7 linked regions of the Homo sapiens genome follow. The protein of the gene in region 1 purifies or fractionates together with the protein of each later gene. This does not show direct contact. Each region holds a gene or a part of one and is shown on either strand. Other genes may lie near its edges.

Region 1 (4,385 bases):
AAAATAAAACTAAGAAATATTCTGTAAATATTTATGAGGAAGAAAAAAATGATATCCCTTTTTAATATGACCAGAATGTCTAGTTTGTACTTTCTACGTCTCTTTATGGACTTCAGCAACTGTGTTTCTCTTAGAACATTTCTCTAGTTTGGAAACCCGGTCTTGAACATGTTCAAGATAGTCCTCTAGCAGCCATACCCACTTGAAACTATTTGGGCCATAGCCACTGTGCTAACTATGGTTATCAGTCAACAGTTCTCAATGAGTATTGCTGCTTGAGATCTTATTACCATTGGTTTTTTTTTTAATTATTATTCTTTATAATGAATATGTGTCTTATTTTAATGTGAATATGTGTCTTATTTTAATGTTTAAGGAATTCCTGGGAGTTAGAGTCCAAGGTCGCACATTAAATGACCATATGGACAAGTTAACCTTAGTTATTTCCATGGCCATAGAGTCATCCCCAAAGTTAGCCAAACATCGACAAATGCGTGTCATTGATATCAGGATGAACTCAGAAAAGAAGGTTTGTATGGGTCTCGCAGATCTAACCTGAAATGCTTAACTATTTCATAGTGAAAGCTAAACCATTTCAGGTTGAAATACCAACAATATGCCCATTTTTTTGCATAGAAGAAACATATTTTAATAACATTCAGTGGTGAATGTTCAAAGAAAGAAAAAAGAATGAGCTGTGTCACACATTAAAGTGTAAAGACAAGAGTTTTGTCATATCCTAGATAATTGAAACTCAAAATTTGCACAAAGCCCTTTTTTTTCGAAGTATTATCAATAGAAATATTTTTACAACAACTTTTCTAGGTACATGTTCTTATCTCCACTTTACAGGTGAGATAATTGAGACACAGGGAGTTTTACACAAGATCACACAGCTTGTGAGTGGTAGAGCTAAAAGTTAAACCTGACAGTCTGACTTCAAAGACCAGGCTCTCAGTCCTTACACTAGGATTGTCTATATTTTGAAAATGATGGTTATGTAAACTAAATTAGATTTTTGAGAAGTTCTTCAAAAGAATTTGTGACCGTCTTTCACTTTTAGTTTATGACATGGAAAATTAAAGACAAGATATTGTGAACCTATTTGTATAGCCTTAAAACTTAAGACAGCTATTAAAAATAGTGTTTATTTATGCAAGTACTATCTTCATATTCCAATACTAATTTTCTTTTCTCAGTTGTCATCTATCCCAGGCCTAGATGATGTCACAGTTGAAGTATCTCCTTTAAATGTCACCAGTGTCACAAATGGAGCACATCCTGAAGCCACTTCAGAGCAACCACAGGTAAGTGAGTTCTAAGAAACGAGCAGATGTTCTTGGTTGAAACTGATAGTGTTAAGCAGCAGGTTGGAAGGAAGAAAAATAAACATGTAAAACTTCTAATAGTAAAATTTTAAAACCTTAACATAGAAAATGAAGTTTGGGAAAAACAAATTAGCTGTGTTATTTTGAAGGGCTTCCTGAAGTTAATACTTTCTTTGCCTGTAAAAAAGAAAATCAGTCTATATAGGACTAGGAAAAAGCTTCAAATAATTATTTTCTTCAAAATAATTAGAAATTTTTCTAGGTTCTTAGAAGAAATGTACTTTTAAAATATTTTATTGTAAAATTTTTAAACATACACAAAAATAGACCTGGATTCACCAGTTTTCACAATTGCTTCATCTATTTTTTTGGTCACTTGCTGAAATTAATTCCAGACATCTTGTCATCTCACCCTGCATAAATTTTTGAGCATCTCTGAAAAGTTTTGACATTTTCTTTTGTAACATTTGCTTATATAAATGCCTTTATCATATACAGTGTAATTAACAATAATTGGCCAGGTGCAGTCACTCAGGCCTGTAATCCCAACACTTTGGGAGGCTGAGGCAGGTGGATTGCTTGAGCTCAGGAGTTCGAGATCAGCCTGGGCAACATGGTAAAACCCTATCTCCACTAAAAATACAAAAATTAGCCAGGTGTGGTGGCACGCACCTGTGGTCTCACTACTCGGGAGGCTGAGGTGGGAGGATCACTTGAGCCCACGAGGCAGAGGTTGCAGTGAACCGAGATTACACTACTGCACTCCAGCCTAGGTGACAGCGCAAGTCCCTGCCTCAAAAATAAAAAATAAATAAATAAATAAAACATTCTCTGGTATTGTCTAACCCCTTGTTACTCAAGTACACGCCATGGACCAACCACATGGGCATCACCTGGCAGCTTGTTAGAATGAAGCATCTCAGGCTCCACCCCAAAACTGCTGATGAGAATCTACATTTTAACAAGACCCCTAGGTGATCTGTAGGCTCTTAAAATTTGAGAGCTACTGATCTTAGAAATACCAGTGTGTTTTTGAAGATGATTCGTTTGAATCAGCATCCCAGTAAAAGCTATACTTTACATTTGGCTCTTAGATCTTAACATTTACTTATGCTTCTGTATGAATTTAAATTTTCTATTACTTTTTATTTCAAAAAATAAAAATTCTTTGTTGTTTGAGAACAATCTCTAGTGTATCTCAGCGAGGTATTAAAATCTAAAACAAAGTAATCATCAAAATGGTGGCCTACCAAAGTAATAATAATAAACAAATAAAACAAACAGATTTATAAATGGAATTCTGCCTTTGTACCTGGAGGCACTTTTCACAGGATATTTTTTAGATCACGATGATGTTGACAGTGATGATAACAGCTAACACTTCAAGAGTGCTTTCTGTGTACCAAGGCATGCACGTTTCTAAGTGCCTTTCATAAACTAATTTAATCTTTACAACAGCCCTATAATGTAAGCACCATATTATCAATCTTAGTTTATAGATGGGTCAAATGAGGTATATAGAGGTTAAGTAACTTGCTGAAGGTCGAAAAGTAACGTAAGAGCTAGAATTTTAACCCAGACAGTCTGGTGCCAAGAGCCCTAGCACTTACCTGCTTCACTACACTATACTACACTACACTACACTGTTTTCAGTACCTGTATTCAATTTATTTAAACATATTGAGGATGCGTGGTATGAGGCCCTGTAGAAAGAGCCATATATTTAGAATATAGTATATATTTGGGTAATAAATTAGATGATCATTTACTTAATTAGATATTATAAAATTTAACATCCATTTATTTAATATAGCAAATTTCATTATGGCCACTCAAATATATAAAATGTGCAAGAGGATATCCAGATGTTGTAGAGGAGTTTAACTTTACATTCTCTCAATTAAATATGACTATCCTCTTTCTAAAATAAAGCGTCTATAAAGAATATTAAGAAAATATTTCCACACTACCTAGTAGTTATTATGTGGTAGATAGAGCTGTCATATATTTCTGTAAGATTTTTAAGTATACCTGTCTAACTTTGATTATTAATTTTTCCAGGTGCTATTATGAATGCCATCTATAATATGCCCTTTAAAATTCTTATGCAGTTGTGTTTGTCCTCACATATTTAATGTCCCAAAAATTGATTACCAGTAATCACAGCTGAATTTCTTAATTTGCTTTGCAAATTCAGAATAACCTGGTATATCTCTGGCAATTTTATTTAAAAATTGTATATGTATTTATTTAGAGGGTTTATGAAGTTCTGTTGGCTTCCAAAGTTTGAAATACTGTGATAAAATTGTGTGTTGATTAGCTTAATAAAATAACTGCTCAGCATGTTCTTAATATTCACATCAACTTCTCATTTATTCATTGTTATTAATTGGTATATTTTATACAAAATATTTTGAAGTGGGCTTAAGTATTGCTTAATCCAGAGTTTTCATTGACATTATAGTCAACTCACTTATCAGACAAAGGAGAATAATGCACTTTTTAAAAAAATCATCTGTTTATCACTCTCTCTAATCTATACATGAGTCAAAGACCCAAGGTTTGTGTACTGATTTTTCTGCAACTTTAATTTCATGGTTCAGATTTCATCATTATTCACAATAGAATATCCAATTGTGCAGAGTGAGATTGATTTGAGAATAAATGAAGGACAGTTGAGAGATATGATAGAGGATTTAATGGGTCATTCAAATAGCAAAGGTGTAATACATTTCATAATTAAACCTTGTTGAGGTCTTGGTTATTAGGCAAAAGTTAACGACTGAGAATTGATATCTGGCCAGGATGTAGTTCATTTGCACCATTTTGCTATTATATGAGTTTAATTTCCATAAATTGTTAAAAAACATACTTGGTTATTGTTTTAATTTTTTATTTAATTAACAGTGTTTTGGAATTTTTGTATTTGTATTATAGATGAATATGTGTGTGTGTGTGTGTATATATATGTATATATATATACTCACTTTGGTAAAACTTAGCAATATCATGTAACAGAAGAAACCTAAAGGATTTTTGGATGTTTATTTGCTTTGT
Region 2 (4,385 bases), on another chromosome or scaffold:
TAGAGTAAGGTCTATAAATTCATCTAACCCTGCCAGAGCGGCACTGTCTAACCTGCCACGGCAGTACTGTCTAACCGTGCCAGGGCGGCACTGTCTAACCCTTCCAGGGCGGCACTGTCTAACCCTTCCAGGGCGGCACTGTCTAACCCTGCCAGGGCGGCACTGTCTAACCTGCCAGAGCGGCACTGTCTAACCTGCCAGAGCGGCACTGTCTAACTCTGCCAGGGCGGCACTGTCTAACCTGCCAAGGCAGCACTGTCTAACCCTGCCAGGGTGGCACTGTCTAACCCTGCCACTGCAGTACTGTCCAACCCTGCCAGAGCGGAACTGTCTAACCTGCCAGGGCGGCACTGTCTAACCTGCCAGAGCGGCACTGTCTAACCCTGCCAGGGCGGCACTGTCTAACCTGCCAGGGCAGTACTGTCTGTTTGTTTGGTCTTTGATTCAAAAGAATTGCATTTATGGGCTTGTTTATAAATTCACTAAACATTTATTGAATTTTATTGTATTCTAGCCCTGTCCTCAGTGCTTAGGATATTGAGAGGACTAAAATTCAGTCTCTACTTCTTAACTCAGGTTATGAATCAGAATAACCTTGGGAGTTTTCTGAGCATATTCTTATTTTTGGCTTTGCCCATGGAGGTTCTTATTAAGTAGGTATGAGATAGGTCCTAGGGAAATGTCTATTTTAAAAGTTCCACAAGTGATTCTGATGGGCAAGCCTAGCTTGAAAACCATGAAAACCACCATATGACCAACCTGTTCTGTATTGATACTAAGAGTAATGCCAAGAGGTGATATGAGAAAGCATATTTTTCTTCCTGATAACTCTCTTTGATGGGTGGTATATATCCTGAGAGTATCTGGTTTCATTTAATTACATTTGGATTTCAGCTATAGTATTTGCAACTCTAATTTTAAACATACGAACTTGGTGTAATAAGTTCTATGGATTTACCTACCTGCTTTGTAAATAGTAGTGTACATTTTGGTTTTTAAGCTTCAGAAGTGCCCCTAACATAGTATTTCAGAATATATGATATGAGAATATGTGATAAGAGCATATGATTCTTGCTTTGTTATTCAGGCTGGTCTTGAACTCCTGGCCTCAAGTGATCGGCCTGCCTTGGCTTCCCAAGGTGCTAGGATTACAGCGTGAGCTGCTATACCTGGCCAAGGATACACAGTTTTAAAATTTGACACTATAGGCCAGGCACGGTGGCTCACACCTGTAATCCCAGCACTTTGGGAGGCTGAGGTGGGTGGATCACCTGAGGTCAGGAGTTTGAGACCAGCCTGTCCGACATGGTGAAACCCCATCTCTACTAAAAATACAAAAATCATCCGGGTGTGGTGGCATGTGCCTGTAATCCCAGCTACTCTGGAGGCTGAGGCAGGAGAATCGGCTCGAACCCTGGAGGCAGAGGTTGCAGTGAGCCGAGATCGCGCCACTGTACTCCAGCCTGGGCGATAGAGCAAGACTCCGTCTTAAAAAAAAAAAAAAAATGACACTCTAGATGCTAAATTAAAGTATAGTTCTTCTTCCCCAGATAATCTGATAGTGGAGGAAGCAGTGCAGGAGCTGAACTCTTTCCTCGCACAGGAGAATATGAGGCTACAGGAATTGACAGATCTTCTTCAGGAAAAGCATCGCACCATGTCTCAGGAGGTACTTAACCAAAAAGGAGAGATGGCTGTGTCTAGTGGGCTGTGGCAGATGTTGACTTACAATTCTGAGCACCTCAAAGATTACCTTACTCTAGAAGGCCTATCATATCATAGGGGATTTTGTAAAACACAACACAACTCCAAACCTCCAAATAATGAATTACCCTAAATATAAAAGACTGTATAGTGTTATTGAGGAATGGCGTGGTAGAAATTCCACAGGGAATGGGGAAGTAGAAACTACTGTATTGATGATGTCCTAGGAATTTGAGGAATGTCAATTTTCAGTCTAAACTTGGGTGCAAATAATGCCATGATTAAACCATGCCAAGATTTGGACATTTATTTATTTACACAAAATGATCAAGATAAAGTGATGATAGGCCTTAAATGACTTTTCTGATACTTCTGATGATCATTTTGATTTAGTTCAAAATATATTCTACTGGAATTTGCCCCACCTTAGTTTGGCCACTGAATTCTTATGCTAATTAGTAATTTAGTAGTTGCCATTTACTTAGTGCCTAGAATTTAAGCACTTTATGAATGTTATCTCTAATGGCAAAACAACTCCCATTTTATTGCCAAAGAAACAAATTCAAAGAGGTTAGTGATTATTCTGAGGGCACATAGCTAGAAAGTGATTGAGCTGTGTTGTGACTGTAGGTCTGTTTGACTTCAAAGCTCTTGTTCTTCATATGCCTTTGTTTACTAAACCCCAGTGTTAAGGTCCATGCTGGCCTGGTTGCATGAATATCATCTGGGGAATTTATTAATTCATATGGATTATCCTGGACCTTCAAAGGGGTTAGAATGTAGTAGCCCTTATAAATAAACTGGAGTCTAGTAAGAAAATAGAATATTTTTATCATGTTTTAAGACATTGACTAGGTGCTACCAAGATGGAGAGGTCTTCCTTTTCTAGCCCTTTGACAAATCTCAGATAGTATTACTAACCTGGAGGGCAGTTGTTTGCTAAACTGTGATGTCCTTGTTGGCTCTCATGGCTGGCTGTTGATGCTGCCTGTCAGCTGGGTTAATTGTCTACTGGGATACCTGCAGTTTGCCTCTCCATCATGGTAGTCTCAGGATGGTTGGAATTTTTACATGTTGGCTGACTTCTTCCAGTGAGCATCCCAAGATCACCAGGTAGAACCTTCATGGCCTTTCTGATATAGCCTCAAAATTGTGTAGTGACATTTCCATTGGGTCTCTAAAGTTGACCCAGATTCAAGAGGAGGGAACAAAGATCCCACCTCTTGTTCAGAGGACTTTCAAAGGATTTTTGTGTCATGTTTTAAAACCTAGCACAAAGGGTATATATAGATTAATGTGAACTTGTAATAGTTTAGTAGTTAAAATACTAAATAGTGTTAGCTGGTGTATAGCTCCTAAATAGAGTATCTGACTTTAGATTATAGTATAATCTATACTGTATTGTATCTGACTCTAGATTGCTCTGGGGTGAGCTTAAAAAAGAGTATGGAAGTTTTCTTTTGTTGTGAATGAATGGATTACCTTTTGTGGGACTGTGGAGAGAAATTTGGGGGTAAAAATGGTTTTTTTGAAAAAATATTTATCTTACAAAACAAAAGATACTATTTATTATCTCTTAAAAAATTACAAAATTTTTATGAGTTTGTGGTCTGTCCAGAGAAATGGTGCTTTTCAGAGGTAGAAAAATTGTTGAATCTTAGGTGGTCTTTTCTTTGTGTGAGAGTTCTTATAGACTTTAGACTTAAAGTTTGCATGATTATAACTGACACAGAATTGTTGGAGGAATCCGTGATTTCATTTTTGTAATCATGCATTGGGAAGAGGGTGAAGCATCTTCTATTTGCCTCTTTTCTATAATTACTCATAAGCAAGGGTTAATATTATGGAATTTGGTCTTTTTTTGCTATATGTTTCTGAATGTTTGTCTTTGGGATGTAGTTCTCCAAGTTGCAGAGTAAAGTGGAGACAGCCGAATCACGAGTGTCTGTCCTGGAGTCCATGATTGATGACCTGCAGTGGGATATTGACAAAATTCGAAAGAGGGAACAGCGACTCAACCGACACTTAGCAGAAGTCCTAGAACGGGTCAGTGCTGTTTTATGGCTTGGAGACTAGAATCATTTTAAGGAGTGTTCTCAGGAAGACTCACCTTGGGGCATGGTATTTGAGGAAAAAATCTCATCCTTTGAAGGTACATTGGTTATAGACTGAAATCTTAAGAGTCTCTCACTAAAGAATCTTTGTGTTCTCTGTAGGTGAATTCCAAAGGTTATAAGGTGTATGGAGCGGGGAGCAGTCTGTATGGCGGCACAATCACTATCAATGCTCGGAAGGTAAAATCAGTGACTCAGGACATGTTTTGGACTGTATGTCAGCTTTCATGCTTAGGTACTTAGGACTGTGTTCACAAGTGACATCATGGGGTTTTGCTGGAATAGCGAATCAGTGAAGAAAGGAAGCTTAGAAATGATTTAAGAAGAATACTTATTTATTCTCTATTTTTCTGCTTCTCTGCAGTTTGAGGAAATGAATGCAGAGCTTGAGGAGAACAAAGAGTTGGCTCAGAACCGTCTCTGTGAGCTGGAGAAACTTCGGCAAGACTTTGAGGAGGTCACTACACAAAATGAAAAGCTGAAGGTAGGAACGCATCCCTGAAGGGCAGTAAAATCAGACGTTCTGCTGATCAACTCACGTATATACATAGTTGTGAATCTGCGTAT
Region 3 (4,385 bases), on another chromosome or scaffold:
TTACGTATTAATCGTCTTTATTTTGTAGCAGACTGTATAAGAAATGTGCTTATTGATATTGTTTATACCTTTCTGTTTGCCTCCCTAAAACATGATACTATATGGTTTTTAGTACTATGGAATTACGTAATCAATAGCTTCCGGAATTCACATATGAGTTACTTATTAAAATTTAAGGTTAATATCAGCATACCAAATATATGATCTTCTTACTAGAAAGAATGAGTCTCACATCTTAATCTAAACGTAGTGCAGATTGTTCATAATTCCTGTAATCTCTCTGTATCTTTTTCTCTGAACAGACTCTTAGATCCTCAGACAAACACTGAAATAGCAAACTACCCTATCTACAAAATCCTCTTCTGTGTCAGAGGGCATGATGGAACTCCTGAGAGTGACTGTTTTGCTTTCACTGAAAGTCATTACAATGCAGAGCTCTTCAGAATACACGTCTTCCGGTGTGAAATACAAGAAGCTGTAAGTCCTCAAGAGAAAACTCTCTGCAAATGAAACTTCACCAGTGCCCTCACTAGGTTGAAATGATTATGGTATTTATTATGATCACTCATAAGCCAGATGAAATTCTCTGCTATTGTTTTAGTGATTCTAGCCTCATGGGCCAAAATATAAATTAACTAAAAATTTGATTAACTAGAACTTTGTTACTACTACTAAGAATGTCAGAGGAGATCTGTTGGCTACTTTTGATTGGGTTAAGTAGGCATTCTGGTTCTAACATTGACAGATTTGCAAACCATTCTTTTAAATCAAAACTTGTTAGGACTGTTTTCATTGTAATATCTTCAGATAGTTTCTAACAATTTAGGAAGTGATTTTTAAATTGGATTTATAGTGCTTACAACCATTTCTTTTTTAAAACCCCTTGTCTGGACATTTTTAGTGTTGCTTGCTTTATAGGCCTAACAAATTAGGTAATTTACCAAAAGAAATAAGTGGGATAAAGATAATTATTGCCCTCCAAAGTAGGTAATCTTCCAGCCTTAATAAAGGTATTTTATATCTTTTGATAACAGCCCATTTCCTAACATGTCTGGTTGTAGGTAAGCCGGATACTTTACAGTTTTGCCACTGCCTTCCGCCGTTCTGCCAAGCAGACCCCACTTTCAGCCACTGCTGCACCCCAGACTCCTGACAGTGACATCTTTACCTTCTCTGTGTCTTTAGAAATAAAAGAAGATGATGGTAAAGGTTATTTTAGGTAGGGAATCTTATTTTATTCATGTATTAACATGCTGTGGTTCAGGGGAAATTCTAGGTCAGATTATAACTTTCATACCATAAAATGATGGCTTTTAAAGGGAGGGCTTTTAAAAAAAATCTGGATGATAAAGGCATATAAATACATAAATTTAACAGAGGCAAAGTTTGAAGAATTTTAAAGCAATTAAAAAAATTGTCATATTGGGAACATGTTGCTACCTTCTTTTAGTCAGATACCAAGTGGCTAACTGCTCACAAAAATATGGCCAAACCGCCAGGCGCTGTGGCTCACACCTGTAATCCCAGCTCTTTGGGTGGCTGAGGCGGACGGATCACCTGAGGTCGGGAGTTCGAGATGAGCCTGACCAACATGGAGAAACCTTGTCTCTACTAAAAATACAAAATTAGCCGGGCGTGGTGGTGGGTGCCTGTAATCCCAGCTACTTGGGAGGCTGAGGCAGGAGAATCGCTTGAACCCGGCAGGCAGAGGTTGCAGTGAGCCGAGATCCTGCCACTGCACTCCAGCCTGGGCAACGAGAACGAAACTCCGTCTCAAAAAAAAAAAAAAAAAAAAAAAAAAAATATATATATATATATATATATATATATATATATATATATGGCCAAAGCTTAGTCAGCTGGATTTGTAGCTATATTTGTTTTGCTGATTGTATTTGCTTGTTTTAGTTGGTTGATTTACTTATATTAATAATCTAAAAATCTTAAGCCTTTTCAAGTCAAGTTTTCCCAGTAAAGTTATCTGCATACATTGGAAGGGGAGAAATAAGGTCTGTGTCTGAAGTCTAATCTTTTGTAGGGTTAGAAGTGACTGATTTTAATTTTTAAATATAATGATAATCCTTTGAGTGGTGGAAAGAACCATGGAATAGAAGTCAAAACTTAGCTTTAGTTTAATTATTGTTACTATTAACAGTGTCCCCATTTCCAAGTTTCTTTACATCTGTCAGTAGTTTCCTCATTTATTAAATGAGGTGGCTAGACTCTAAAACCCTTTCTCACTTTAAAATTTTATGGTTGCAAGATGACTTGATGTTTTTAAAATTACAGCCCATGTCCCAAAATGATTGTATTATAATCAGTAATTGCATGTAGAAGTCTGTTTCCTCCATGACTACCTCATTAAATTGGTAAAATGAAGTTATATAAAAATATGAATATTTCTAATATTTTGCTTTTAAATTAAGCACAGTGATTGGTTTATTAGATTATTAGAAAAACTGATAATTTTTAGTCTTTCTTCAGACTTTGGAATTGTCATGCCATCTGGTGGCCAATTTAGTGTACAGTGCAGCTTAAACTTTGAGGAGTAAAGTATGACTCATTGTGCTCTATGCTTTCTAATTAGATAGATTTCTATTCTCTCTCTCTCTTTTTTTTTTTTTTTTGAGATACGCCTCACGCTGTTGCTCAGGCTTGAATGCAATGGTACAAACATGACTCACTGCAGCCTCAGCCTTCTGGTCTCAAGCAGTCCTCCCACCTCGCCCTCCTGAGTAGCTGGGACCACGGATGCATGCCACTATGTCTGGCTAATTTTTTTTTAAGTTTTTCTAGAGATGGGGTCTTGCCACATTGCCCAGGTTGGTCTTGAACTCGTGGTCTCAAGTGATAGTCTCAGCTTGTCAAAGTGTTGGGATTACAGGCATGAGCCAACCATTCCTGACTATTTCTATTCTCAAAGCAATGCTGTGAGGTAGTCCTTCCTGCAATGTACCTTCCTGCCCTGCAAAGTGAAAATTATAATCTGTATAATTTTAAGTAGTTTTTTACCTTGTTAAGCAACCTTTAAACTAAATATATTTTCTTTCTTTTTTTTTTGAGACAGAGCCTTGCTCTGTCACCAAGGCTGGAATGTAGTGGCACGATCACGGTTCACCGCAACCTCTGTCTCCCAGGTTCAAGCAATTCTCATGCCTCAGCCTCCTGAGTAGCTGGGATTACAAGCATCTGCCACCATACCGGGCTAATTTTTTCTATTTTTCAGTAGAGACAGGGTTTCGCCGTGTTGGCCAGGCTGGTCTCAAACTCCCGGCCTCAAGTGATCCATTTACCTGGGCCTCCCAGAGTGCTGGGATTATAGGCATGATTCACCATGCCTGGCCTTTTTTTCTTTATTGAAAATATTTATGTAGTTTTGGTCTGTAAATTCTAATTATTAAATAGGAAAGATTAAGATCCCTCAGAAGTATCAGTATAACTTCCCTTCCTTCTGAAATCAGGCATATTCAAGGTAGAATGATCATAAACATCTCTGTTCTATTTGTTAATACTGACAAAGTGCTATTACAGAAAATCCCTGGATGGTCAGATTTGCTTTTCACATTTGTTAGGACTTTGTTCTCCTTTTGCTACATGGCTTTGCTGAATTTCTGGTTTATAATAAATACTGTTATGTTAACTTAAATATATTATTTAAGTATAATGATCAATATACCTAAATATATTAGGTTAATATATATTATTTAGGTATAATAATAATTATATATTATACATATAAATTATGTAATAGTTATATACCTATTATTATATAAAACCTATTATATACTTACTATTATACCTAAATATTTATTTTATCTAAATATTATACCTAAATAATTATTATACCAAAATAATTATTATACCTAAATATATTAGGTTAACACAACAGTACTTTAGATGTATGAAATCCTAGCAAAATATACCTTGGTTTGTCAGATTTAAACTTGTCAAAGGTAGTTCCTCTTATCCAGTAATTCTGTAATATGTATGGAAATTTATCTGCAGAAATAATCATTGAGGTTTTCAAAGAATTATTATTATGAATGTTCTCCAACATACTGTGTATAATATTAATAGCAAATTTTAAAAGTAGAAATTAAGTGTTGAATAGAGTACTAAAACATGTTGGTTTATGGATATTACTTATCCCCTGTCCAACTCATATTTGTGTATAACACAAGATTTACTGTGGTTTTACTTTAACATAAATATAGACAAAGTATGATGAGAATAATTAATGCTCTTCTCATTTCTGAAAAAGTATAATTTTTAAATTATTATTATTATTATTTTGAGACGGAGTTTTTCCTCTTGTCACTCAGGCTGGAGTGCAATGGCGTGATCTTGGCTCATTGCAACCTCCTTCTCCCGGGTTCAAGTGATTC
Region 4 (4,385 bases), on another chromosome or scaffold:
AAGGTAGGCTCAAACTTATTCCAAGACTGAGACTAATACTACACAGTGACTGTGCTTTCCCTTGCCATTTTCTAAGTACAATGTTGACTTTTAGTCACATATTTTCTAGACATTTAAACCATTGCTAAGGCTTCAACTTTATTTCACATTGATTGATTTTCTTGTTTATATGCTTTTTTTTTTGAGACGGAGTCTTGCTCTGTCACCCAGGCTGGAGTGTAGTGGTGCAATCTTGGCTCACTGCAACCTCTGCAGTTGAAGCAATTCTCCTGCCTCAGCCTCCTGAGTACCTGGGATTACAGGCGCACAACACTACTCTTGTTCATGTTTTTAAGTCCTTATTCTTCCTGTTTTGTCTTTGGTGGGAGAGGATATGTCATCCCTTAAGGTGACTTCTGCACATAGCTAATTTCATCTGTTGTATTGATTTTTCTGGTTCATCTTTTAGAAGGTGTTGGAGTTCTTGGTTGTAAGCAACAAAAAGTCAATCTAGGTAAGCAGAAAAATAATTTATTGAAGACTCTTTACCCTACAGAATTTCCCTGAGGTCCCAAAAGTCTGAGCTGATTGCTACGTCCAGTTATACTGGGGAGACTACTCTGTGTTGCAGCTGCTTCAGCTTGGCACCAGCATTGCATCTGTCACTTCACAGCTTATATTTGTGTGGATGCATGAAGTTCTGTCTCCATTGTCATCAGATGATGAACTTTATTTGTATGTCTGTTTTTTCACATCACTCACTTATGACTCGAAGTCTCATGTGTTTCATTGATGGAGCTCAGGTTACCCTGTCTCAGATAAAAAGAAGATTGGGTTAGTAAGTTTTCTGAGTTCTAACTTACGGACTTATAAGAGCTGTTTATAGAAAAAAGGTTATTAAACTTTTGTCATATTTGTAGATGCTTTTCCTCACCTCCCAATTAAACTGCTGCTTTGATTTGTTTTTCACATAAAAATCTCTTTCCCATTCAGAGATTGTAGAAATAGACTCTTGAATTTTTTGTATTTCAATAAAAAAAATTAAATCTTTAATATAGCTTAAGTATGAAGGATCTGATTTGTGTGTCTTGCCCCATATGGATGGCCAGTTGTCCCAACATTTATTGAATGTCTATCCTGATGCAAAATGTTACTTTTATCATAAGCTAAATATGTATATGTCTGTCTGGATGTATATATGTGTATATAGAGTATGTGTATATTTGTATACTATTCCTCACGACCTCTCAGTTCCACCCTAACCACAGCAGTTTGTGCACGGATACCACAGACCAGAGTTCCATTTGTTTATTCATTCATTCATTTATTTGACAAATATTTATTAACTGCCTTTTGTAAAGTGCAGACTACAAAAAGAGGTAAGATATCATGACTCATTCATTTCTCAAAATAGATCTGAGTTCAGATCTATTTTGCTGTGGGTGTAGGGGGATTTCAAAATTTTGGTTTTATACTTTTAGGGTTGTTTTTAGCTCACCTTAGAGTAGACCCCAGACCTCTAGTTTAAATTTTGAGCCCTTTCTCCTGAGTTTTTTTGCGCTGAGGGTTATAGGAGTCAGGCTGTCAATTACAGAGCTAAATGGAATAGCATCTCAGTATTTAGCAGTGGTATTCAAGGTAGGCTCAAAGCAAGGCCATTAATTAGGTGGGCAAGTGCTGTTTATCTGTGCATTTCATACTATTGAATGTTAGAGCTAGAAGGTAGAAGGGATCTTAAAGATTGAATTGCCAGCCTTTTTTTTTTAAATGAACTTCTAATTTTGGAATAATTTTGGTTTATAGAAAAGTTCTAAAGATAGTGCAGAGAGTTTTTATATACCCCTCACCTGGCTTCAGTTTTCTCTAATATTATCATCTTACACTAGTATCGCAACTTTATTTTATATATGGAGACACATAGTCCTCAAAAAGTTCATGTAGCTAAGATCATAGTTCTAGTTGGTGGCAGAGTTAGGCCAGGGACCTAGTAGGTAGCCTGGGTTTTCTAGTTGATTATATTTGTTATCCTTTTCTGCTTTTCGTGTTTTTGCTCTTTTCCTTTCTTTCACTGAATTCTTTGGGCATGGACTGAGAGAAGGACTACCTAGTTCATAGTTCACTAGTCAATATAGTCTTGCTAATTTGTGCAATAATTTTTAAATCTAGGCGTCCTCCAATTCTTCAACACCAACAAGAATGAGGAGCAGGACATCTTCATTTACAGAGCAACTTGATGAAGGTACACCCAATAGAGAGGTAAGTTTGGAATTCCTTTTCTAGTATACCTCTCAAAAGAAACTAATCTAAAATGTATGCTGTTGATAACAAAATGGGAAACTTTTGACAGGTCAGCTATTTAATTCCTAGGTAGAGTTTTTATTAGTAACACAATTGGTCTTTTTTTTTTTTTTTTCACAAATAGCAGTTATGATTTATGTCTGTCTGTCTGTCTGTATGTATGTATGTATGTTTTTGAGACAGGGTCTGGTTCTGTCACCCAGGCTAGAGTGTGGTGGCACGATCACTGCACATTGCAGCCTTGACCTTCTGGATTCAAGTGATCCTCTAACTTCAGCCTCCTGAGTAGCTGGGACTATAGGCGCACGCCACCTGCCTGGCTAACGTTTAAATTTTTCGTAGACGGGGTCCCACTATGTTGCTCAGGCTGGTCTTGAACTCCTGGGCTCAAGTGATTCTCCCAATTATGCTTTATAAAGTATGGTTGTTGAGAACCTTAATTTGAGAGGATAATATGTTCTGGATTTAATAGTTGAAGTTTTCAGAATAATTTGATAAATTTGTTCAACATAGCATCATTTTTTCAAGCTGGTGAGTGGAAACTGAGAAGTAACTTATTTAACTTATTCCATGTAACCAGCAGCTGGCATTAAAACTCATTATTTCCCACTTTTTTTCTGTGAAGTGTAACACACATACAAAAAGAAGGTAAAACATAAATGCACGGGTCAGCAAATTATCATGAAGTGAATCCTCCCAGGTCAAGCAAAGGAACACTGTTAGCACTGTCGTGCTCCCTTTCCCCCTGAAGGATTACCACCATCCTGAATTTTTGGTATTTGCTTGCTTCCTTTTTTTTTTTTTTTTTAATAGTTTTACCTCTTAAATATGCTTTCTAAATGTAAACATTGTAGTTAAACATTTGGGTTGTCTACAGGTTTTGGCTACTATGAATTATGTTGCCATCAACATTATTGTACTTTTTTTTGGTGTACATGTACCTGCATTTCTGTTGGTATGTACTTTGGAGTAGAATCACTGCTCCATTTTAACACATAAGAAGATAATGCTGATGGTTTTCCAGAGTGGTTGTAGAAATTTAAATTCTCACCAGGAGCTTATGAAAGTTGCTTTTGCCCTATATTTTTGAGAGTCTTTATTTTTCTACTCTGTGTAAATATGCTGGAAAACAGTCTTTTTCATTTCAGCTGTTCTGGTGGTGGTCTTTCATTTTGGTTTTAATTTACATTCTCTGATAACTAACGAGATTGAGCATTTACATCTGTTTATTGCCCATTTGATGTCTTTTGTGAGTGCTTAAGTCCCTTGCCCATTTTCTATTGGATTATCTTTTTTTAAAACTGATTTGTAGGAGTTTTTTAAAAAATATAGAATACTAAGGAGTTTTTTGTTGAATATATATCTTGCAGCTATCTTCCACTCAGTGGCTTGCCATTCATTTTAATGATGTCCTTTGATGAACAGAAGTTCTTAGTTTTAGGCCAAGTATGGTGGCTCATGCCTGTAATCCCAGCGCTTTGGAAGGCCAAGGCAGGAGGATTGCTTGAGTCCAGGAGTTTGAGACCAGCCTGGGCAACAGAGTGAGACCCTGTTTCTGCAAAAATAAAATAAAATAAAATTAGCTAGGTATGGTGGCATGCACCTGTGTGGTCCCAGCTACTCAGGAGGCTAAGGCAGGGGCATTACTTGAGCCTCGGAGGTCGAAGCTGCAGTGAACCATGATTGCACCAGCCTAGGTGACACAGTAAGACCCTGTCTTTCAAAAAAAAAAAAAAGCCTGGTTCCCATCCATTTCCCATCCCTGACAGTACCTTCTATCTTAGAAGTTTAACAAAATGAGAAACCGCATAGGGTACAGGGAAATGATGAAAAAATTAATTTAATGTCCTTTTAACCAAAAACTTAATTATATAATTGAAAAATCCTTTATTTATTATAAAATAAGTTGAAGTAAGGTTTAGATTGCACTCTGTGGTCAAAGTACCTGTTAAAGTTGTCAAAAAAGCTTAAAAAGCAAGGAGATGAAGTGATGACAATGCTTTGTCATTCTATCCGAAACCATCTCTTAGCTAGGATTGTTAATATTAAAATTTAGAAAGAAATAAATAAACTTTAGCTGACTTGGTCGATTGTAAAAGAGTGCTAAA
Region 5 (4,385 bases), on another chromosome or scaffold:
GCCCAAGCTACTTGGTAGCTGAGGCAGAAGAATCGCTTGAACCGAGGAGGCAGAGGTTGCAGTGAGCTGAGATAGTGCCACTGCACTACAGCCTGAGCAACAGAGTGAGACTCCGTCTCAAGAAAAAAAAAAAATTCTCCAAGTTAGCCAACTTTACCTTTAAGGTTTTTTTTCTTTTCCTTCTTTTTTTTTCCTGATCCATTATATTTATACGTATTCATGGGGTACATGTGAAATTTTGTTAAATGCACAGAATATATAATCATTAAATCAGAGTATTTACTATCCACAGCCAGGTATTTATCATATATATGTGTTGTGTACATTTCAAGTCTTCTGGCTATTTTGAAAAATATTTATCTTTCCCTGTCTTAGATTTTACTTAACATAATGACCTCCAGCTCCATCCATATTCCTGGAAATGGCGTGATCTTATTCTTTTTTATGGGCATATAGTATTCCATTGTGTATATATACCACATTTATCCATTCATCCTTTGATGGGCACTTAAGTTGATTTCATGTATTTGCTATTGTGAGTAGTGCTGCAATAAACACAGGAGTGTATATATCCCTTTGTTATATTGATTTGTTTTCAATGACTACCAATATTGGGGTTTTTGGATTGTATGGTAGCTCTATTTTTAGTTTTTTGAGAAATCCCCAACTGTTTTCTTTTTTTTGAGACGGAGTCTTGCTCTGTCGCCCAGGCTGTAGTGCAGTGGCATGATCTTGGCTCACTGCAAGCTCTGCCTTCCAGGTTCACACCATTCTTCTGCCTCAGCGTCCTGAGTAGCTGGGACTACAGGCGCCGGCCACCAAGCCTGGCTAATTTTTTGTATTTTTTAGTAGAGATGGGGTTTCACCATATTAGCCAGGATGGTCTCGATCCCCTGACCACTTTGGGAGCCAGCCTCGGCCTCCCAAAGTGTTGGGATTACAGGCGTGAGCCACCGCTCCTGGCCTGAGAAATCCCCAACTGTTTTGTATAGTGACTATGCTTACCTACACTTCCACCAACAGTGTAGAAGAGTTCTTTCTCCACATTGTCATCAATATCTGTTACTTTTTTTCTTCTTAATAGCCATTCCTTATTGTGGTTTTGATTTGCATATCCCTGATGATTAGTGATATTGAGTATTTTATCATATACTTCTTGGCCATTTCTTTGTCTTTTAAGAAATGTCTATTCATGTCCCTTGCCTATTTTTTAATGGGGTTATTTTTTAATGTTGTGTTGTTTGAGTTCCTTGTATACTCTGGGTATTAGTCCCATATTGGATGAGTAGATTGCAAATATTTTGTCCCATTTAAGAGGTTGTCTTCTTCATGCTGTTGATTGTTTCTTTTGCTATGCAGAAGCTTTTTAGCCTATAATCTCAGCATTAAGGGAAGCCATGGCAGGAGGATCACTTGAGCCGAGCAGTTTGAGACCAGCCTGAGAAACATAGCAAGATCCGTTTCTACAAAAAAATATAAATTAGCCAGACATGGTGGAACATGCCTGTAGTCCCATCTTCTTGGGATGCTGAGATAGGAAGATCACTTGATCCCAGGAGGTTGAGGCTGCTGTGAGCCATAATCACACTTACTGCACTCCAGCCTGGGTGACAGAGGGAGCCCTTACATAAAAAAAAAAAAAAAAAAATTTAAGATGCCTTTCAGTTTAATGTAGTCCTATTTGTCTGTTTTTGTTGCCTGGGCTTTTGAGATCTTAGCCATAAAATCTTTGCCTAGACCAATGTCTTGATGCATTTGCCCTGTGTTTTCTTCTTTTAGTTTTACACTTTTGGGTCTTATATAATATAAGTCTTTAATCTATTTTTGTTGATATTTGTATCAACTAAATGGTGAGAGATAGGGACTCACTTTCATTCTTCTGCATATAGTTACCTGGATTTCCTGGCACCGTTTGTTAAGAGGGTGTCGTTTGCCCAGTGTGTGTTCTTAATGGCATTGTCGAAGATCGGTTGTGTATAAATATGAGGATTTATTTTTGGGTTCTCTATTTTGTTCCATTGGTCTGTATGCTTGTTTATATACCAATACTTTGTTGCTTTGGTTTCTATAGCCTCGTAATATGTTTTGAAGTCAAGTAGAATGATGCCGCCGCTTTATTTTTTAACTCAGAATTTCTTTAGCTTTTCTGGCTTTTTTTTTGGTTTCATGAAAACATTAGGATTCTTTTTTCTGTTTCTTTGAAAAATGGTGTTGGTATTTTAATAGGGATTTCATTGAACTGTACATTAGTTTGGATAGTATGATCATTTCAACAATATTTTGTGAGCATGAAATGTCTTCCTGCTTATTTGTGTTCTCTTCAGTTTCTTTCATCTGTGTTTTTGTAGTTTTCATTATAGAGATCTTACACTTCTTTGGCTTTTGTTTGAGCTACTGTAAAAGGTGTTGCCTTCTTGATTTCCTTTTTTAGCTATTTTATTGTTGGTATATAGAAATGCTACTGGTTTTTGTATGTTGAATTTGTATCCAGCAACCTTACTGAATTTATCAGCTCTAAGAATTTTTTGATAGTCTTTTGTCATCTGTAGAGAGGGACAGTTTAACTTCCATGTTTCCAGTTTGGATGTCGTTTATTTCTTTCTCTTGCCTAATTGTTCTGGCTAGGACTGTCAGTCCCATGTTGAATAGTAGTGGTGAAAGTGGGCATCTTTGTCTTCAGTTCTTAGAGGAAAGATTTTCAGCTTTTCCCCATTTTTGTGTGATGTTAATGTGAGTTTGTCATATGTGGCCTTTATTATTTTGAGGTATAATCCTTCTGTGCCTAGTTTGCTAAGAGTTTTTATCCTGAAGGGATGTTGAATTTTATGAATTCCTTTTTCTGCGTCTAGTGAGATGACATACGACTTTTGCCCTTTATTCTGTTGATGTGATATGTCACATTGATTTGCATATATTGAACCATCCTTGCATCCCTCGAATAAATTCATTTGATCATGGTGTATTATCTTTTCAATGTGCTGTTAGATTTGGTTTGCCAGTATTTTGCTGAGGATTTTTGCATTGGTGTTCATCAGGGATATTGGTTGTTGCTTTCTTTTTTTTTTTTTTTTTTTTGCTGTGTCCTTGTCTGGTTTTGGTATCAGGGTAGCACCAGCTTTCTAGAATGAGTTAGGGAAAATTGCCACCTCTTCAGTATTTTGGAGTAGTTTCAGGAGGATTGGTATTAGGTCTTTATACATTTGGTAGAATTCAGTGTGCATCCATCTGGTTCTGGGCTTTTCTTTGTGGGGAGACTTTTTATTACTGATTCGTTCTTGCTACTCATTATTAATTTGTTCAGGTTTTCTATTTTTTCCTGGATTTTTCTTTGATAGGTTGTATGTTTCCAGAAATTTATCCATTTCCTCTAGGTTTTCCAGTTTGTGGGTGCATAGCTGTTCATAATATTCTCTGATGGTCTATTTATTTCTATGAGAATGGTTGTAATGTCTCCTTTTTCATTTCTGATTTTATTTAGGTCTTCTTTTTTGTTGTTGTTAGCCTAACTAGTAGTTTATCAATTTTGTTTATCTTTTTGAAGAACAAGCTTTTCATTTTGTTGATCCTCTGCCTTTTTTAAAAGTCTCTATTTCATTTAGTTCTGCTTTGATCTTTATTAGTCGTTTCCTTCTGCTAATTTTGGGTTTGGCTTTGGCTTGTTCTTTCTGGTTCATTGAGGTAAATCATTAGATTGTTTGAAATCTTTTTACTTTTTGGATGTAGGCGTTTATTGCCATAAACTTAGTATTCATGTCCTGCTTTTGTTGTATCACACAGGTTTTGTGATACAAAAAATCACATAGGTTTTGTGATACAAAAGCACTGCTTTTGTTGTATCACATAGGTTTTGGTATGTTGTAGTTTCCATTTTCATTTGTTCCAAGAAATTTTTTGATTTTCATTTTAATTTCCTTATTGACCCATGGTCATTTGAGACCATGTTATTTAATTTTCATGTATTTCTGTCACTTCCAAAGTTCCCCTTGATACTGATTTCTAATATTCCATTGTAGTTCGAGAACATACTTGATATGATTTTGATTTTTAAAAATTTGTTGAAAATGATTTTGTGGCCTAACATATGGTCTTTTCTGAAGAATGAATGTTTCATGTGCTGTTGAGAAAAATATGTATTCTGCAGCTGTTGGATAAAATGTTCTACAAACATCTGTTAGGTCCATTTGGTCTAAAGTCTGGTTTAAATGCAATGTTTCTTTGTTAATTTTCTGTCTAGATGATCTGTCTAATGCTGAGAGTGGGGTGAGTTTGCCCAGTACGATTGCACTGGAGTCTCTCTCTCTCTAGATCTAGTAATAACTTGCTTTAGGAATCTGGGTGCTCCAGTGTCAGGTTCATATATGTTTAGAATTGTTACATCTTTTTGC
Region 6 (4,964 bases), on another chromosome or scaffold:
ATTTCGTGAGACTTATTCACTATCACGAGAACAGCATGGGAAAGACCCTCCCCCATGATTCAATTACCTCCCACCAGGTTCCTCCCACCACACAGGAATTGTGGGATTTACAATTCAAGATGATATTTGGGTGGGGACACAGCCAAACCGGAAGTAGAGAGAAAACACACTCAAAGTAGAGGGAAGAGCTGTCATTGGATATCATGGCTGTGATCCCCCAAGTTGTGTCCACAGTGCTGGGCAGTGGACAGATCTTTTGGTATGGTTCCCCTAAACTAGTAAGAGACTATGGGAGCAGGGATGTTACGTGTCTCTTCCTGAAGTTTTAAATTAGCCGTCATGGAGAAACCTCAACATGGGAAGGCTGATAACTCCATGCATGTTCTAGCTGATTATTAATTATTCTTATCTTGAGATAAAAATAATGGAATTTATCGGAGGTGGGGAGGGGACCCTGTTCTGATTGATGCCTCTTAAGAGTTTTCGATTATTGAAATTACTGTTTTCTGAAAAGAATCTACTTATTACTTTGGGAGTTTGGCAGGAACAAGGCTGCCTCCTTGATCTTTGGCCCCTCAATTCCCTTACAGGTTACTCGGTAGGATTGCTGTAAGGATTATTGCGGCAATAAAGTTAACACATCCCTTGTTTTTGAACCATTACCAGCTGTGTGACCTTGGGCAAGCCCTTTCACCTCTCAGCTAGTTTCCTCTTATGAAAAATGGGGAATAAATTTAAAACATGAGATATGCAATAAACGATCTAACACCCATGCCTGCTATACGGTTGCCTGCTATACAGTTAAGTATTCAAAAGAGGACGTACCCAGGGGTAGTTACTGTTAGCACAAGTCCTATGGATACTATGAAAAACAGGGACAGACCACCCAGGCTTTCTACAAACGAGTCAGTTTTTTGCCTTTGAAGTTAACCTCTAACCTTGTGAAACGGCGACAGATAAGGACATGGGGTTCAAGAAAACGGGGCATAGTGGAAAATCAGGGGCATTAGCACCCAACGATGTGCGTTGAAACCCTAGTTGTTTTTCTCCTTCCCAGTTGCTGAAATCAGCCCTTCTGGCCGATTCGCGGGGTTCTCACCGGGAAGTTGGGGCTGTCGCGACCGTCCGCGGGGCCTCGGGAGCTCCTGTGGGGCTGGGCCCGGGACCTGTCCCCGGGGAGGCCGCCCAGTTTGGGCGGCCCGGAGCGGGGCGCGCCGCTGGGAAGGGGCCGGGTCGAGGCAGGCAGGCGCCTGGGAGCTGGGGCAGCCCCGGGTGGTCGGGTCGCGCGCCGAGGCGCAGGCCGAGGGCTCGCCCGGGCCTTTGTTGGCCGCCGGAGCGGTCCCTGCACGCGCCGGGAGGATCTCAGCCAGATGTGGCAGCGGGGCGGCGGGGAGCAGGCCGGCGCCCAGAGCTGGGACCCGAGACCGCGGCTCCGCTCCGGACCTCGCCGTGACACCGATGAGCCGGGCCAGCCTCCCGAACGCTCCGCAGGCTGCGTGGCGGCGCCCCTAAGTGACAGTCGCGCGGGCCACTGGTGGGGCGCGGGGCGCGGGGCGCGGGGCCCGCGGGGCCGGCCAATGGCTGGCGGGGTCGGGGCGGCCCGGCGGGGCGGGGCGGGGCGGGCGCTCCAGCGGCGGGGGCGGAGCCGGCGGGGCGGGCGGGGCGGCCCGCAGCGGCGGCGGCAGCGGCGGCGGCGGCTACAGCAGCTCCGCCGGCAGCCGCGGGAGCACGGCGACGCCAGCGGCGGGTGAGGGGCTCGCGGCGGCAGCGGCGGCGCGCGGGGGCGGGAGGGGGCGCGGGGCGGCTGCGCGGAGGGCGCGGGAGTTGGGGGCGGCGCCGGCGGCCGGGCTGGCGGCCCCGGGCTGCGGGAGATCCACCTGCTGGTAAAGGAGCCTACTGCGCCGCGGCCCGGCCGGAGCTCTGTGCGGGGGAGCTGTTGGCGCCTCTGGGCGCGGGGCCGGCTCCGGGAGCGGCTGGGCCTCGGGGGCGGGCGGCGGGGCGCGGGCCGGGCCGTCCTCCCAGCGTCCCTGCCCCGCACCGCGCACCCCTCGGGGTCGCGCGCCCTCTCTGCGGCCGGCTCGGCGCCTGGTGCGTTCCTGGCGCTCCCCGGCGTGGCGGGGCTCGGCGACTTTGGGGGAAAGTGGAGCAAAGTGCTGATCCGGGGGGTGCGGAGGGGGAGGGACAGCTGCCTGTGGGACCCGGGGGCTGCGCGGGAGTCGGCGCTTTCGCGGGGGCCGCGGGGCAGGTGGGCGGGGCCGGACGGTCCGAGGCGCAGGGGCAGGGGCTGCTCCCGAGGGGACCGGCCGTGCAGCCTTCGCAGGGAATTTTCACACAAAGTGAAGGGCTGCGGGGCCCGCGTGAAAGAGCAGCCCCCGTTTCCCCAGGCCTCAGCTCTCTCCGTAATGAGGAAGCTGCAGTAGGACCCTGAGGCTGGGTCTCGGTGACTCCACCAAGTGTGCCAGGTGACATCTCGGAGGCGAGCTTTTCTGAGCTGGCAGTCGAGCCACTTGCACACCCGCCTTTATTCCTCGCAACAGTGTGTTTCTCTGGAGCGGTTTCATTGCCTACATTCCGCATTGGAAAATAGAAGCAGGCACAATGTATGCTTTGAATGCTTTCCACGTATTTTGCTGTTGTGCTTTTGCTGTTGGACAGATTATTTGATAAAAGATAATGACAGTCGTTCGTTGGAACGTAGACTGTAAATTTAGAATAAAAATATGCGTTTTGTGGTTTATGTTTCTTTTTCTGAATGTTTAAAAAACAGTTTGATGAACAGGTTATCTTGACATAGATTTCTTTAACCCACACGTGTAAACCCGAAAACGCACTGGGCGATGACATTACGTAAGCTGTATTAAAGAAAACTACTGACCCGTTTATAAATGGCAAATAAATGAATTTTGCCACAATTGTGGTGTGTAAAGTTATATAGGCTTACGTCATGGATTTTATTGATTCCAGATATCAGGGATTATTGTGCCTTTCATTCTTAAGTCACCTCTACCCTGTCTGTGGGATGCTGATTAAGGAAGATGCCAAACGTTCGGCAAAGTGTTCTCAGCCGTGGACTATATTGAGTATTTCAGAGAACACTTTAAAATAAGTAAAGGTTTTGTATCCAATAATAAAATGAAGACTGAAGCCCTTAAAGGATTGCTAACAAAACAGTCTGATGTCTAGAGTTGAAAGTTCCATTCACCTTTGGGAGGGTGGAGAAATGACTAGCAATTTTAGCCACTACCTTTTTTTGTTGTTGTTAAAGATTCAAACGTGTTAGATTATAGTCTCCGAGAATATTAAGGGGCTAGATTAAAATTTTTGCAAATGTGGACACTAATAAAAATGTGGGTCACCTGTGTCTTACAAGCCAGCCTGTGAATTATGTCTCATAATTGAAGAGTGAGTAGATCCTTGGTTTTACTCTTGTCCGAAGAGTTTCTTCACTTGTGCCGTGCAGTTAAACTTATTAGCTGGGAAACCCTAATTAAAAATGTATGACTACATTCTTACTGAGTAAAACACGCATATTTTTCTTGCAAAATTTCAGGGCTTATTTGCTAGTAGAATTTATTGTAAGTATCTTCAGAGTTTCATAACTTACTGGATCCAGTATTTTTTTTTTTTCATATATTAGGGGTAGTATATCAATAGTTTACTTTGGTTTTAGAGTTCATTTACTTGTCTCTATGCATTTCTACGGAATGTTTTTACAAGCTTTATTTGTATTTAGTAAAACTTTTAAAATATCCTTAACTATATGATGTGCGCTCTACCTCCCCGTTATTATGAATTGAGTGCTTACTCTAATAACCTGTATGCTTTTTAGATCTTTTACTAGAACAAAATTCTTTCTCAAGTAAAATAGGGCTAAGTAGATAGCAGCTGAAAGTTATAAGTATTTTAATATAATGCCACACCGGGATTAATGTTCCAAGTTATATAATTCATAGAATTATCACCCGTGTTTTTATAATCAGAATTCATTATTGGGTGCTTATTGATTTAAGACAATTAGAGCAGTCTTGCTATGAAGTTTTTTTTTTTTTTCAAACTGAGTCTCTGTCACCCAGGCTGGAGTGCAGTGGTGTGATCTCGGCTCACTGCAACCTCTGCCTCCCAGGTTCAAGTAATTCTCCTGCCTCAGCCTCCCGAGTAAGCTGGGATTACAGGCACCTGCCACCACTCCTGGCTAATTTTTGTATTTTTAATAGAGACAGGGTTTCGTCATGTTGGCCAGGCTGGCCTTGAACTCCTGACCTCGGGTAATCTGCCTGCCTCAGCCTCCCAAAGTGCTAGGATTACAGGCATGAGCCACCACACCTGGCCACTGTGAAGATTTTAATTCTAAACTGTAGACGTGGGCATGTTTGATGTTAACTTGTCTTAACTGTAGAAGGTGAATAAGTTCAATCTTAGAGAACAATGATAACTTCTGCATGAGAATATTTTTAGATCTCTTTGTGTTCAGGTAGTAAAAGAGGTTAGGTGCTTCTAGAATATTATGTGGAAGGTAGAGCTGCTGTCTGAGGGTTAACAGGCATAGTTTGGTGGAGGGTTGTGGTGAGGTATTAGCCAAAAGCTACAGGAAGTGGAGATTTGTTTAAAGTTGTATAAACATACACTTTGAAAATTTCCATGAATTTTGCAACTTACTCCTTAGTAGATCAGTGTGTGTTATATAATTTATTTTTTTAATTTACACTTACAGTTGGGTATAATTCTGCAGTTTTACCTGATACTTGGAGTATCCCTGGAACTTCTCTTCATATTGCCAGGTGCAGGAGGCCTCATTTGAGAGGGAAAGTGTAGCAGCTAAGAGCTTGGACTTTGGAGACAAACAAATTCGAGTTCTTTCTCTGGATTCATTTCCTTGTGTGTAGAACAGGGTTAATAATGCCTGCCTCATAGGAACGATTTTGTGAAGATTTAAACCATGTGGTGGATCAGGCACATAGGAAACA
Region 7 (4,385 bases), about 13 Mb from region 1:
AGGCAGAACAACCATTCCTCTCAAAAATATTTATGTCTTCATCCCCAGAATCTATGAAAATGTTTCCTTACATGGCAAAGAGGGCTTTGCCAATGTGATTAAGTTAAGGCTTTTTTTTTTTTTTTTTTTTTTTTTTTTTTAAGAAACAGAGTCTCGTTGCCCAGGCTGGAAGTACAGTGGCTCGATCTGGGCTCACTGCAACCTCCACCTCCCAGGTTCAAGTGATTGTCCTGCCTCAGCCTCCTGAGTAGCTGGGACTACGGGTGCATGCCGCAACACCTGGCTAATTTCTTTTGTATTTTAGTAGAGACAGGGTTTCACCGTGTTGCCCAGGCTGGTCTCAAACTCTTGAGCTCAGGCAATCCGCCCACCTCGACCTCCCAAAGTGCTAGGATTACAGGCATGAGCCACCATGCCCGGCCAAGTTAAGGCTCTTGAGATGGGGAGGTTATCCTGGATTATCTGACCGGGCCCCATATAATCACAAGGGTCCTTATACGGAAAGAGGGATTCATGAGAATTAGAGAAGATATAACAATTAAAGCAGTTATTGGAGTGATGCAGCCATGGGCTAAGGAATGTGGACAGCCTCTAGAAGCTGGAAAGGCAAGGAATGGATTCTCTCCTAGAGCCTTCAGAAGGAATGCAGCTTACTGACACCTTGTTTTTAGCCCCGTTAATCCTGTTTTGGACTTGCAATCTCCAAAACTATAAGATAATAAATCTATGTTGTTTTAAACCACTAAGTTTGTGGTAATTTGTTACAGCAGCAGTAGGAAATGAACACAGTCCTGTATCTCTGGCACCTGGAATTTTGCCTGGCACATAGGTGCTAAATAAAATAATTTTGCTTGAACAATTGGCATATATTCATTATCTTAGATCTTATGTAGAGATTATTGAAGTTTCCAATCCCTACTCTAAATTTTATCATTGAAAATAAATGATATAGTCTTTCTTTGAAAAATATTTGCTTTTATTTTTGTCCAAGGCAAAAGGCTTTTTTTGTTGTTATTCTAGTCTATTTCAGGCAGACGTTTTATACATACGTGTGTGTGTGCATGTGCGTGTGTGTGTGTGTGTGTGTGTAGTGATTTAAAAATCTCAGAACATCAGGAATAAAAAGGGCTTTAAAAGGCATTCAATTGAATTTCCTGATTTGATGTTTGTATATCTTTCACAATATCTCTGACAAATGACCTTCCCAAGTCTATTTTAGAACCTTCAATAATGGGAAACACTTTGGCTTAGATATTTTCTGCCTTTTATCTGTTTTCTTCTCTACTTACAGAATTAAACCAAGAGTAGAAATGTTAGTTGTAAACCAAAACTAACTTATTTTAACCAACTGATTGAATGTATATCTAAAGTTCAAGTCACTGATTATCTTTACATGTGAAATGCCTACTTTTGCACTCACATTTGTTAGAAAAATCCATCTGTTATTCAGCCAGAAGCTATCAAGTATGCCTTTAGGGGATAAAAATCTACCAGTGATTTGAAGTTAGATAATATATGCTTACATTGCTTCCTCACTGTACCTCTGAGAAGGCATTTAAGATTGTAATTTTTAATAGAAAATGGCATTAGTTTAACTTTGGGGGGTAATATTTCTCTTCAAATACTATCAAATTGCTAATATTTAATTTTTTGTGATTGGCTCAGCTGATGCAGGACAGTCCATTAAATTCAGTTCAACCAATGTGGAGCTTTGTCTGTGTCTCATGTGCTATGCCAAGCACCTGAGATGATAAAGTTACTGACCCCACATGAGGGGTTCATAATCTAATGGGGAATACGGATATGTAAACACAAATATAATAAGGAGTGAGAAATCCTCTACTGATGGCACGAAGTCTTGTGGGAGTGAAATGGCACTAGTGATTAATTCTGACTCGCCAGCCCAGAGGGTGGGTGGTGGAAAGGGTGGTGGTAGAAGGAGAGAAGAGGAAAGGAGGAAGGGGAGTAGATATAATGTATGAACTTTCGCACGTAGTTGAGCACCACAGTATCTTGAATATTCCTTTGTTAATTATGTAAATAATAATAGTTTAGATGTGTGGACCATGGTTATGTTGTTGAATGGTTAATTTTCTAATAAAAATGTGTTTGGCAATGCGAAAATTTTCAGTTTTCATTGATGCATTAAAATAATTCATCCTCAAAAATAAGTGACAAATGAAGATGTATGCATTAGAATTAACCATGGTATTTAAAGAACCTTTTAAGAGTCATTTGTCCCCAGGATGTGATATGTTTTGTATTCAGTTCTCAGGACTTTCGTAGTTCTTTGCATCAGTCAGATCTGTATCTTTTACTCCATTTCATTTGTTCAGGTGAAAAGTGAGTCCTTTTGACCTATATAGATAAGGATTTCTCAGCCCTTAGATTCATTCTTTGCCCTTGGTGAGGCTGCATTTCCCATCTTCAAGATGGCAACCATGGGGTTATCCAAAGAAGAACTTAAGAATAGTGATTGCCCTGCCATCCTTTTTGATAAAGTACTTCCCCAGAGTATTGTAAGCTCCATGAAGGAAGATACCATGTCTGACTTGTTCTTTGCTATAGCTCTAATGCCTACCATAGGAGGTCCTTATTTGTAGGATCAATCAATGATTGTATTACTATTGCTTCACTGTATCACACAATGTTAGCAATAGAAGTAAGAGGTGGGAAATGAGAACATGATATAATTTCTTCTTTTTATGAACTACCAAAGCATTTGTTTTTTCTGCAGTCTTGCAATCATGTGTTTGCTTATGTTCTGTCTGCTTGTTTATTTCCTGCTCATTCAGCAGTGCCAGAGATGAGCCAGGCATTGTGGGGGATTTGGGCCCTGCCTGGTCTGAATTCTCTCATCGCAACAGGGAATCCTTGAGAGCGGGCATCATACCATACGTACATTTATCATTGTATGATAGTATGTATAGATAGATGCTCAGTAAGTATTTACTCAGAACTGAATATTAGCACCTTTGAAATAGGAGAGTATCTCAATGTGCTGAGAGAAGCAGGTACTACAGACTCACTTGCTGGACTTCTATCAGCCAGGAATCTTAAACACCATGTTTTTCCCTTTGTACCTTTTTAAAAAATACTTATGAATGGAATGTATTGAACCTCCCCCATGCTGTGCATCTCACTTTTCTCCTGTACAAACAGGATGTAAAGACAGGGTTAGTTGGTAGAAAGCTATCTGCTAATACCTAGGTTTCAATACCTTTGAGAGACAAAGAGAGATGTCAGTTGGCTAATGTTGTAGGATGGAGAGCTGGCACCCTTTTTTCTCTCTGCACATATGCTTTTCCCTTTTTTCTTTCATTTCCATATGTCATATGATAATAATATATTTTTTGCTTGTGCCAAACAAGAAAACCTATTGGAGCTCTTTTATTGCTTAGATTGTCTATGGTCTTAAATCATCTTTGCCAATTTTCCTATTGTCCTTTCTATACTAACGACCTTGACTGCAAACCTCCAGAGTTCAATGAATGATTGGGGCCTTTTTCCAAGAAGGTCTGAAGCTGTTATTACAATATGATTAATAATATTTGTGGCCATGTATGTACATACTTAGATATGTTGTGATCCATATTTTTTCAAAAAAACTGTCTTGGTTATAGATAATTTGGTTTCCACCTGTGAGAGCAATAATAAAATCTGCATACAGCCGGGCTCAGTGGCTCACTCCTGTAATCCCAGCACTTTGGGAGGCCGAGGCGGGCAGATCACGAGGTCAGGAGATCGAGACCATCCTGGCTAACATGGTGAAACCCCGTCTCTACTGAAAATACAAAAAAGTAGCTGGAGGTGGTGGTGGGCACCTGTAGTCCCAGCTACTCGGGAGGCTGAGGCAGGAGAATGGTGTGAACCCAGGAAGCAGAGCTTGCAGTGAGCTGAGATTGCGCCACTGCACTCCAGCCTGGGCAACAGAATGAGACTCCATCTCAAAAAAAAAAATCTGTATACAAGTGGTTAACATTTTCTAAAATATTCAAGCTTCTGCTAAGTACTAGAAATGATCCAAGGGATACAGTGATGAGAAGAGTAAACATAGTAGTCTAGTGAGGGAGACAGACAATAGACAAGCAGCAAATACATAAATACAAATTCTGGTCAGTTACAGAGGAAAGCATCAGGATGCCATGCTGGAGAATGAAAGGTCCAGCTTCAGTAGGGTAGTCAGGGCAGGGACTGCATTTCTGAAGATGGGACAGTTAAGCTGAAATTTGGAGGTCAAGAAGGATGCAGTCATGCTAGGATGGCAGAGAAAGCCATTGCAGGCAGAGCAGAAGCAATGTTTTTTGTTTGTTTGTTGGTTTGTTTTTTAAAGCCTGTTCTTTGAGCAGGAACTATTTGTTTGGGGGTGAGGATGGTTGTGGAGC

The links.
Region 2: the proteins of WASHC3 (region 1) and RNF20 purify together in Homo sapiens (co-immunoprecipitation; 3 studies listed by BioGRID and IntAct, with this or other methods). This does not show direct contact.
Region 3: the proteins of WASHC3 (region 1) and RABGAP1 purify together in Homo sapiens (co-immunoprecipitation; 3 studies listed by BioGRID and IntAct, with this or other methods). This does not show direct contact.
Region 4: the proteins of WASHC3 (region 1) and GOLGA4 purify together in Homo sapiens (affinity purification with mass spectrometry; 2 studies listed by BioGRID and IntAct, with this or other methods). This does not show direct contact.
Region 5: the proteins of WASHC3 (region 1) and GCC2 purify together in Homo sapiens (co-immunoprecipitation; 3 studies listed by BioGRID and IntAct, with this or other methods). This does not show direct contact.
Region 6: the proteins of WASHC3 (region 1) and MGAT4A purify together in Homo sapiens (affinity purification with mass spectrometry; 2 studies listed by BioGRID and IntAct, with this or other methods). This does not show direct contact.
Region 7: the proteins of WASHC3 (region 1) and POC1B purify together in Homo sapiens (co-immunoprecipitation; 3 studies listed by BioGRID and IntAct, with this or other methods). This does not show direct contact.

The regions. Positions count from the first base shown.
Region 1 is NC_000012.12:102,041,027-102,045,411, reverse strand, and holds part of WASHC3 (WASH complex subunit 3), read left to right. Parts: intron 1-1,199; coding exon 1,200-1,307; intron 1,308-4,385. UniProt on the Homo sapiens protein: Acts as a component of the WASH core complex that functions as a nucleation-promoting factor (NPF) at the surface of endosomes, where it recruits and activates the Arp2/3 complex to induce actin polymerization, playing a key role in the fission of tubules that serve as transport intermediates during endosome sorting.
Region 2 is NC_000009.12:101,543,217-101,547,601, forward strand, and holds part of RNF20 (E3 ubiquitin-protein ligase BRE1A), read left to right. Parts: intron 1-1,550; coding exon 1,551-1,669; intron 1,670-3,603; coding exon 3,604-3,750; intron 3,751-3,920; coding exon 3,921-3,998; intron 3,999-4,182; coding exon 4,183-4,302; intron 4,303-4,385. UniProt on the Homo sapiens protein: Component of the RNF20/40 E3 ubiquitin-protein ligase complex that mediates monoubiquitination of 'Lys-120' of histone H2B (H2BK120ub1).
Region 3 is NC_000009.12:122,988,995-122,993,379, forward strand, and holds part of RABGAP1 (rab GTPase-activating protein 1), read left to right. Parts: intron 1-302; coding exon 303-477; intron 478-1,061; coding exon 1,062-1,219; intron 1,220-4,385. UniProt on the Homo sapiens protein: May act as a GTPase-activating protein of RAB6A. May play a role in microtubule nucleation by centrosome. May participate in a RAB6A-mediated pathway involved in the metaphase-anaphase transition.
Region 4 is NC_000003.12:37,249,250-37,253,634, forward strand, and holds part of GOLGA4 (golgin subfamily A member 4), read left to right. Parts: intron 1-448; exon of another isoform or gene 449-493; intron 494-2,145; coding exon 2,146-2,235; intron 2,236-4,385. UniProt on the Homo sapiens protein: Involved in vesicular trafficking at the Golgi apparatus level. May play a role in delivery of transport vesicles containing GPI-linked proteins from the trans-Golgi network through its interaction with MACF1. Involved in endosome-to-Golgi trafficking.
Region 5 is NC_000002.12:108,455,320-108,459,704, forward strand, and holds part of GCC2 (GRIP and coiled-coil domain-containing protein 2), read left to right. Parts: intron 1-4,385. UniProt on the Homo sapiens protein: Golgin which probably tethers transport vesicles to the trans-Golgi network (TGN) and regulates vesicular transport between the endosomes and the Golgi.
Region 6 is NC_000002.12:98,727,831-98,732,794, reverse strand, and holds the start of MGAT4A (alpha-1,3-mannosyl-glycoprotein 4-beta-N-acetylglucosaminyltransferase A), read left to right. Parts: upstream 1-1,662; 5' UTR 1,663-1,747; intron 1,748-4,964.
Region 7 is NC_000012.12:89,428,139-89,432,523, reverse strand, and holds part of POC1B (POC1 centriolar protein homolog B), read left to right. Parts: intron 1-4,385.